Regions from separate parts of the Homo sapiens genome. Here regions 2 and 3 are each linked to region 1. The links come from fine-mapping of genetic effects on gene expression. A gene starts in region 1. Each other region holds a variant in brackets. All regions are shown on one strand. Distances are between the middles of the regions. Region 1 holds the start of PCED1B-AS1 (PCED1B antisense RNA 1). Region 2 has its middle 3.4 kb from the start of LINC02416. Region 3 holds the start of MIR4494 (microRNA 4494).

Region 1 (2,768 bases):
CATCACAAAAAAACAAAAACAAAAACAACCTAAGAAATTATTTTCTTTCTTTCTTTCCTTTTCTTTTCTCTCTTTCTCTTTCTTCTTTCTTTCTTTCTTTCTTTCTTTCTTTCTTTCTTTCTTTCTTTCTCTTTCTTTCTTTTTCTTTCTTTCTTTCTTTCTTTTTTTTTCTTCTTTCTCTGTCTCTCTCTCTCTCTCTGTTTCTTTCTTGTCTCACTCTGTTGCCCAAGTTGGAATTCAGTGGCGAAATCATGGCTCACTGCAGCAACTCTGCAGGCTCAATCAATCCTCCCACTTCAGCCTCCCTAGTAGCTGGGACTACAGGCCTGTGCCACCATGCCTGGCTAATTTTTATAGTTTTTTTTAGAGACAGGGTTTCATCATGTTGTCCAGGCTGGTCTTGAACTTAGACTCAAATAATCCACCTGCCTCAGCCTTCCAAAGTGCTTGGATTACGGGTGTGGGCCACCGCACCTGGACTACATATTCTAATTTTCTCCATTTTATACTTTTAAAAATTAAGGCTAAAAGATTGAGTAATCTGCCCAAGGTCATCCATTTTATAAGAAGTAGTGCTGGAAGTAAAACCTGATGCCAAGCCTTTGTGGTCAACCACAACATACAAGATTGCAGACAACAGATGCCTCACGTCCCTTCTCCAGTTCACAACTAAATTGGCTGTTTTCTTTCACTGTCCATTTTAATAAATTTACAAGTTTATCAATCACTAATATTTTTGTTATTGCCAAGCACCAGTTGTCTCTTTAGTGTTACATGGGGTGGGCTGAAGGAGGCTAGGGTGCTGATTCCTGTCTACAGTAAGTGCCCAAAAAATGATGGTCTCAAGAAAGGCTGGTCAGAAATGCCAACTTAAAGTTTCAGATAAAATGGAAAAACTGAAAAGTACTTACTCATTAAAGTAACTGGTGATTTTTAAGCATCTCTCTCAGTTGATTCTAGATCTCGTCCCTAGATAGCTTTCTTCCTCTCCTGTAGATCATTGTGACCAGACGGGAGATCTCAGAGCTTGGGCTATAGGGGAAATAGGTTAGCCTCTGGGTGCTGCTGTGCTTGCAAGCCAGCGTCTGGGGAGAAGATGACATTTCCGGTGGCATCTGGGGCAAACGACACAAGTCAGCATTTAGTTTCTTGCTTTAGGAAGCGGAAGACTAATGACCGAAGCTTCAAGACTTTGACATGTGTGAAAACATGAAATGGTAAGTCAATACAAAGACAGCATCTTCCTGGAATTTGGTTTTGAGCTTGTTTTCATTTCACCTTTCTCAGTAATCTGGGTGTAGCTTATTTTGACTCTTCCTTTGATTAAACAATTCAGACCCTTGGCTCTTATTGTTCTTGCTGGTGTGGTATGTTCACGGCTGAAAAGATGGTCAGAAGGGGAAAGGAGGAAGTGAGAAGAAAGAAACAGGGAAATGGTAAGAAGAACTCTACTTTTCTAAATAATATTTAATAGTAGTAATCTTGTGTTTCTGTGCAAGGTGTTACAGTTTACAAACCGCTTTTATTTTTATTTATTTATTTTTTTTGAGACGGAGTTTTGGTCTTGTTGCCCAGGCTGGAGTGCAGTGGCATGGTCTCGGCTCATTGCAACCTCTGCCTCCCAGGTTCAAGCGATTCTCCTGCTTCAGGCTCCGAGTAGCTGTGACTACATGCACCCACCACCACACCCGGCTGATTTTGTATTTTTAGTAGAGATGGTGTTTCACCATGTTGGCCAGTCTGGTCTCGAACTCCTTACCTCAGGTGATCCACCCGCCTTGGCCTCCCAAAGTGCTGGGATTATAGGGGTGAGCCACCATGGCAGGCCACAAACCGCTTTTAAATCCTTTCACTTCATCTCTCCACTGACGTCTTGATGGAAAAATGGCTCAGTCCACACTACAGGAAACCACAGGCCTGAGCCCCAGCCTCAGCTAGATCCAGTATGTGGCAGAGCAAGATAAGAACTTTCTGCTTCCTCCCTTAGTGTTCCACTTGAAACCAGCAGGTAACTCAAGGGGACAGCGTGCTTAAAAGGGAGATGGTTCGTCTGGCGCTGTGGCTCATGCCTGTAATCCCAGCACTTTGGGAGGCCGAGGCGGGTGGATCACCTGAGGTCAGGAGTTCGAGACCAGCCTGGCCAACATGGTGCAACTCCGTCTCTACTGAAAATACAAAAATTAGCTGGGCGTGGTGGTGGGCCCCTGTAATCCCAGCTACTCGGGGGGCTGAGGCAGGAGAATCGCTTGAACCCAGGAGGCGGAGGTTGCAGTGAGCCAAAATCGTCCCATTGCACTCCAGTCAGGGTGACAAGAGCAAGACTCCATCTTTAAAAAAAAAAAAAGGGTGGGGGAGATGGTCTTCTGATTGATTAGATAAGTGTAGGCATTTGTTTTCTTTTGTCTGGAATAATATGATTTCGGGGAGAGGAATATCACTTTCCCTACAAATACCAAGATGAAAAAGAAAAGGAAATAATGAATCAGAAAAAAAAGAGAGAGAGAAAATGCATGACTACAGAAGGTCCCAGTGCATGACTACAGAAGATCAGAATATACCACCCCCAGGTTCCCGTAATCCCAGGTCCTTGGGAGGCTGAGGCAGGAGAATCGCTTCAACCCAGGAGGCGTAGGTTGCAGCAAGCCGAGATTGCGCCACTGCACCTCAGCCTGGGCAACAGCGAGACTCCATCTCAAAAATAAAAAATATGCCACCCCAAAATATAGTTATTTGGCATATTTCGAGCTGATTATTCTGAGCAACTGCAG
Region 2 (2,768 bases), 130 kb before region 1:
GTCTCTGAGTCAAAGGATAATTACAGAATCCTACATTTTGCTTTGGTTGTGTAGACCGACCCAGACTTTGGATAACAGATGGGAAAACAGACTTTGAAACTAAAAGCCCAAGAATTATTGCGCCTATTTTTATCAGGTGGTTTTGTATAATCCTCAGATTGTAAAAAAATACCCTAAAGAAAGTTGTTTGTAGAATAAAATTTATCACAGTGAGTATTGTCACAGTGAAATATTTTAATAACAAATATATTGCCAAACAAATGATGAGCCACTATTATGAACACAGTCTTAGCCTGGCTTCTGCTCTATAACAGAATACCTGAGACTAGGTAATTTATTAAAAAACAAAAACAAAAATTTATTTCTTATACATGCTGAGCATCCCAAATCTAAAAATCCAAAATCCAAAATGCTCCAAAATCTGAAACTTTTGAACGCTGACAAGAAATACTCACTGGAGCATTTCAAGTTTCAGATTTGAGATGCTCCACCAGTCAGTATAATGCAAACACTAGCAAGATTCTAGAATGGATGACTGAGTGATTATTTATGTGTATTTACATAGGTGGGAGACAGCCATTAGTAGCCCTCTAGGGCCTACTAATTTGTTGTGTTCCATACCTCTGGAAACCTGATTATTGCAAGGGTCAGATCTTAGCAGCTGAGAAAAGAGCCAATGTGGGATATCTTGAGAATAAATGTCTGAGAAACCTGTCCCAAATCAGAATGGATATTTTAGGCTGGCATATAGCCCCCTATTCCTTTAAAGTTCATGCATATACTTCACTTCCCTGATGGAAAAGGCTATAAATCTGGAAGGATCACAGATATCTCATTTAATTTGCTGAAGACACTTAGGACTCAGAATGGTGCAGATTGCTGTGTCTGGGGTTGCATAGCTGACGGGTTGCGGAACTGGGACTGCAATTCAGATCTTTCAGCCTGCCATCAGGTGAGGGCTTTTCTAAGCATCACTGCCCCAAAGGATGGAATGAATGCCTTCCATGGCTGTGGATCATCTGGGCAGGGGTAATTATTGCCTCTCTTCTCAGGATGGAGGATTGACAGACAATCATCCAAACACTCATTCTCTGGCCACTGTGTGACCAATGGCAAGCATCTGTGAAGCACTGAAAGGCTGGGGAAAGAGGGTAAGGGAGTTAGGGCTCTAAGTAGCGTCGGCGACACCAGAGCTGTGCCAGAGCCTTCTGGTGTCCTTTATCTTCATATTCTCTTTCCAGTTCAAGCTACAAACTGTGTCTTGAAACTGTTGTTTCAGTA[TA/A]AGGCACGGTATCTTAAATTTGTTAAAGTTTGCCTGAATAAATTTAAGCATGACTACTTTTAAGCATCTAGTTCACCTCTAAGAAAATCCAACTAAATCAAAAAGAAATCTGAAAAGAAAAATAACTAAGCCCACTTCACTGGCATTCACTAAATCACCACTTGTAAAGTGTCTGGCTCTCACTATGCATTTTACATGCATTGTTTAAAATCCTGACCACAATCTTATGACATAGAGATTACTTTTATTTTAAGGATAAGGAAATTGAGGCTCAGAGGGTTATCATACACTAGCAGGAAGTGGAACTTCTGAGAGTTGAACTCTCATGTTCCTCCCACTCTGATACATACTCTCTATTCACCCAACAAATATGTGTTAATTTTTTTTTTTGGAAGCATCATAGAAATTGTACCTCAAGTACTTGGAAAGACATTTGTTAAAGAAATAGAAACTTAGAGTCTGAGATCAGCCTGGCCAACATGGTGAAACCCCATCTCTACTAAAAATACAAAAATCAGCCTGGCATGGTGGTGCACGCAATCCCACCTACTCAGGAGGCTGAGGCAGGATAATCGCTTGAACCTGGGAGGCAGAGATTACAGTGAGCTGAGATCGTGCCACTGCACACCACCCTGGGCCTGGGCCACAGAGCTAGACTCTGTCTCAAAAAAAAAAAAAAGGAACTCATTTTTAAAGGCAGGCCAATACCATGTTCTATAAAATAAAATAGGTTTATAGATGCTTAAAGGGAAGTACTACTTCTGAAAAAAACAATGTGGTTTCCAGAGAAAGGTTATTTAGCCATTGATGAGGTTCTGGGACTTTATTAACCTTAATAAATGTAAGTTTGACTTTTAAAATTAAGCAAGAATAATGCAAAACTGAGGACAACTCCTGGCCCAGAGTAGAGTGTTGCCCATGGCTGGTGGATACATCATTGTAATGACACTGAGCATTCAGAAGGGCTAGTGAATATTTCAGTCTGAAGTTAACAGGAAATCAACTGTAAGGCTAATTTGTTACTGTACTAGGACACTATTTTACTGAATATAAATTACCTCTTTGGGTAGATATTTCTAGGAAAGAGATTACATTTCTCCTTGCCACATTTCTCTGCAAAGTGTTCCAAGTAACTGTCTACAGCAGAGGTTGGCAACCCTTCTGTAGCATAAATGTAGCCTGAGACAATATGTGAAAGAAAGAGAGTGGCTGTGTTCCAATAAAACTTTATTTAGAAAATGACAGAGGTGGGGAAAGGGGGCTGTAGTTTGCCCATCCCCGAACTACAGTATTAGTAAGCATTGGGTAATAAATGTCACTTCTACTTAAATGTCCAAGAGACCTGCAAAGCAAAGAATCCAAGTGCGTGTATTATTTTTTTAAAATCTCATTATGGATATTAGAGCATTCAAAGCCAACATAGAAAGTTACATTTCTTTAATGTGACTATTACCACCCTTGTTTTAAATGATTTGGATGAAACCTT
Region 3 (2,768 bases), 150 kb before region 1:
TTGAGGTCAGGAGTTTGAGAGCAGCCTGGCCAACATGGTGAAATGCTGTCTCTACTAAAATACAAAAATTAGCTGGGCGTGGTGGTGCACACCTGTAATCCCAACTACTCGGGAGGCTGAGGTAATAGAATCACTTGAACCCAGGAGGCTGAGGTTGCAGTGAGCCGAGATTATGCCACCGTGCTCCAGCCTGGGCAACAAAGCAAGACTCTGCCAGAAAAAAAAAAGAGAAAAGATGCGTGTAAAAGGGCTGACTGCTGAATCCAACTTAGTCACTACTCAGTAAATGTCAGCTACTACTACTATTATTACTGAATTTCTTTTTGGAATGTTGATAGAGAACCATTACCACTTAAACCTGGGGAATTTTTCCTTGCTGTGGAAACAGGGCTTGACTTTCTAAAGATTGTGCTCCCCTCTCATGATGATTGGTGACTTCGTTTACTCATTTATAACATGTTCTGAACATCCACAACTTTGGTCCGTTTTTTTTGTATATGCAAATTTTTTGAGATATAGATTGAATGGTAGAAATGGAGAATTAATATTTGCATGAAAGGATTAATAGTTTAAAATCTTGTTTTTAACCATAAAGCAACACATTCATAAGCTGTAAAACTTACAAATGGGTATGAAATGTAAACGCCTACCTCCTTACTTACAAATCCATATTTAATGTAATTATAGCTGAAGATAATCATAGCTATTATTTCTTTTTTCTCAGATATTTGTATGTATATACATACATGTATATAAATATATGTATAAACGTGATTCTAGGAATTTTCACTTATAATGATATTGTATTCTACCTTTTTTTCCTACTTAAAACAGTTTAGTTTGGATACTTTTCATATCAAGACATAGAAATGCATTGGTTCTTTGGAACAGCTATGTAATATCCCATTTTACAGAGCCACTATAGTTTATTTAATCCTCTCTTGATGGGCATTTAAATTTTTTTTTTTTTTTTTACTATTACAAATAATAGTATCATGCTACTCCTATACAGTATATATTTGCCGCCTGGTGAAAGCGTTTCCTTGGGAAAAATTCCTGAAAGGAGAATTGCTGAGTTTAAGAGAATGTGCTTGTTAAATTTTAATAGTTATTGCCAAATTGCTTTCCAAAAAGTTGTAGCAATTTACATTTCATTAATAATACATGAGTGGTCCTGTTTCCCACACTCTTGAGTAAGATCAACATTTTACAGTAGTTCTCCTTTATCCATGGGATTATACCATGCTGCACAATTTAAAATGTATAAGTTGTTTGTTTCTGGAATTTTCCATTTAATACTTTGTTTTCTGAAGTTTTAGTTACCCTGGTCATCTGCAGTCTGAAAATACAAAATGGAAAATTCCAGACTGTGGCTGACCAGAGGTAACTGAAACCTCAGAAAGTAAAACCATAGAATGGGGTTGGGTGGGGTGGGTGCAAGCTCCA[G/A]TATTTTTGCAAAATATACAAAGTGAAAAACAGTATCTTGTTTTAACTTACATTCCTTGATTTTTTTAGATAGCTAAAAATGTTATGTGTTTATTGGCTGTTTGCTTTGTTTTTGTTGCAAACTTATTTTTCTATTGAATTGTTCAGTTTTCTGTTGCTGATTTTTTAATTGCTTTGTATATAAAAGAAATTAACCCTCTTCCTGTTATATAAATTGCAGACTTTTTTTTTCTATCCTGTGGTTTATCTCTTGACTTTACGGTATTCTAGTCTTGAAAAAGTTTTAACTTTTATATAAGTAAATTTATCAATCTTATCTTTTATGTCTGTCACTTTTCCCCAGTTAAAAATTATGAGAAAAAGATCAATGATTTTTCCAGTATTGTTATGGTTTCATATTTTACATTCAAGTTATTGATCCACATAGAATTTGTTTGGGCATAAGATACTTCTGCACTTTTTCCCCCAATGGCATGTTCATCACAACATTTCTGAATTATTCATATTCTCCCATTAACTTTAAAATACCACCTTATTTATATTTTATTTTATTTTATTTTTTTGAGACAAAGTCTTACTCTGTCACCCAGGCTGGAGTGCAGTGGCACAATCATGGCTTACTGCAGACTTGACCTCCAGGGCTCAAGTAATCCTCCCACCTCAGCCTCCCAAGCAGCTGTGACTACGGGCATGCACCAGCACACCCAGGTAATTTTTATATTTTTTGTAGAGACAGGGTTTTGCAATGTTGCTCAGGCTGGTCTCGAACTCCTGAGCTTAAGTGATACACCCACCTCAGCCTCCCAAAGTGCTGGGATTACAGGCCTGAGCCACTGCACATGGCCTTATATTAATATTAATACTTTAAGTTCTTAAAGGTATTTGGGTCTGTTTCTGGGGTCTTTATTCTCCATTAACAGCTTTCTTATTTCTTATAATTTCTCTACCTATAAAATATCTTAATATTGGATAAAACTATTTCTTCATTATTTCATTTACAGTTGTATTGGCTATTCTCACTCCTCTATTATTCTACAAGACCTTTACAACATTTTGTCAGTCTCCAAAAAAATCCTATTGATATTTTGATTGGAATTACAATTGCTTCAGGGAAAAGAAACTATATTGTTTCATTCACTCCTATCTTTCGGGTTCCCATATTAATCAGGATAGGATGGACTGTTGCAAGAATAATTAAATTTTCAAATCCCAGGGTATTATTTCAACAAAATTTTGTTTCTCACTCATGTAAATTCCTGTGCAATTGGGCCACTCTCCAGGACAGGGGTCCTCACTTTAGGGGCCCCACTGTCCAGGCTGTT

What was found. PIP is the estimated chance that this variant, and not a neighbour inherited with it, causes the effect.
Region 2: its variant is fine-mapped to the expression of PCED1B-AS1 in whole blood (TOPMed, PIP above 0.99).
Region 3: its variant is fine-mapped to the expression of PCED1B-AS1 in whole blood (INTERVAL, PIP above 0.99).

What each region holds. Positions count from the first base shown.
Region 1 is chr12:47,214,833-47,217,600 of GRCh38, reverse strand. PCED1B-AS1 (PCED1B antisense RNA 1) reads left to right here and starts at 1,158. Exons shown (of 3, transcript NR_026544.1): 1 at 1,158-1,217; 2 at 1,337-1,436. PCED1B (PC-esterase domain containing 1B) reads right to left here. Exons shown (of 4, transcript NM_138371.3): 3 at 912-1,379.
Region 2 is chr12:47,349,033-47,351,800 of GRCh38, reverse strand. No RefSeq gene overlaps it. Among named protein-coding and RNA genes, the nearest start is that of LINC02416, 3.4 kb to the left of the region's middle. The variant TA/A (reference allele first, on the strand shown) is at 1,282.
Region 3 is chr12:47,362,813-47,365,580 of GRCh38, reverse strand. All of the region lies in intron 1 of LINC02416 (long intergenic non-protein coding RNA 2416), which reads right to left. MIR4494 (microRNA 4494) reads left to right here and starts at 1,312; the gene lies at 1,312-1,395. The variant G/A (reference allele first, on the strand shown) is at 1,447.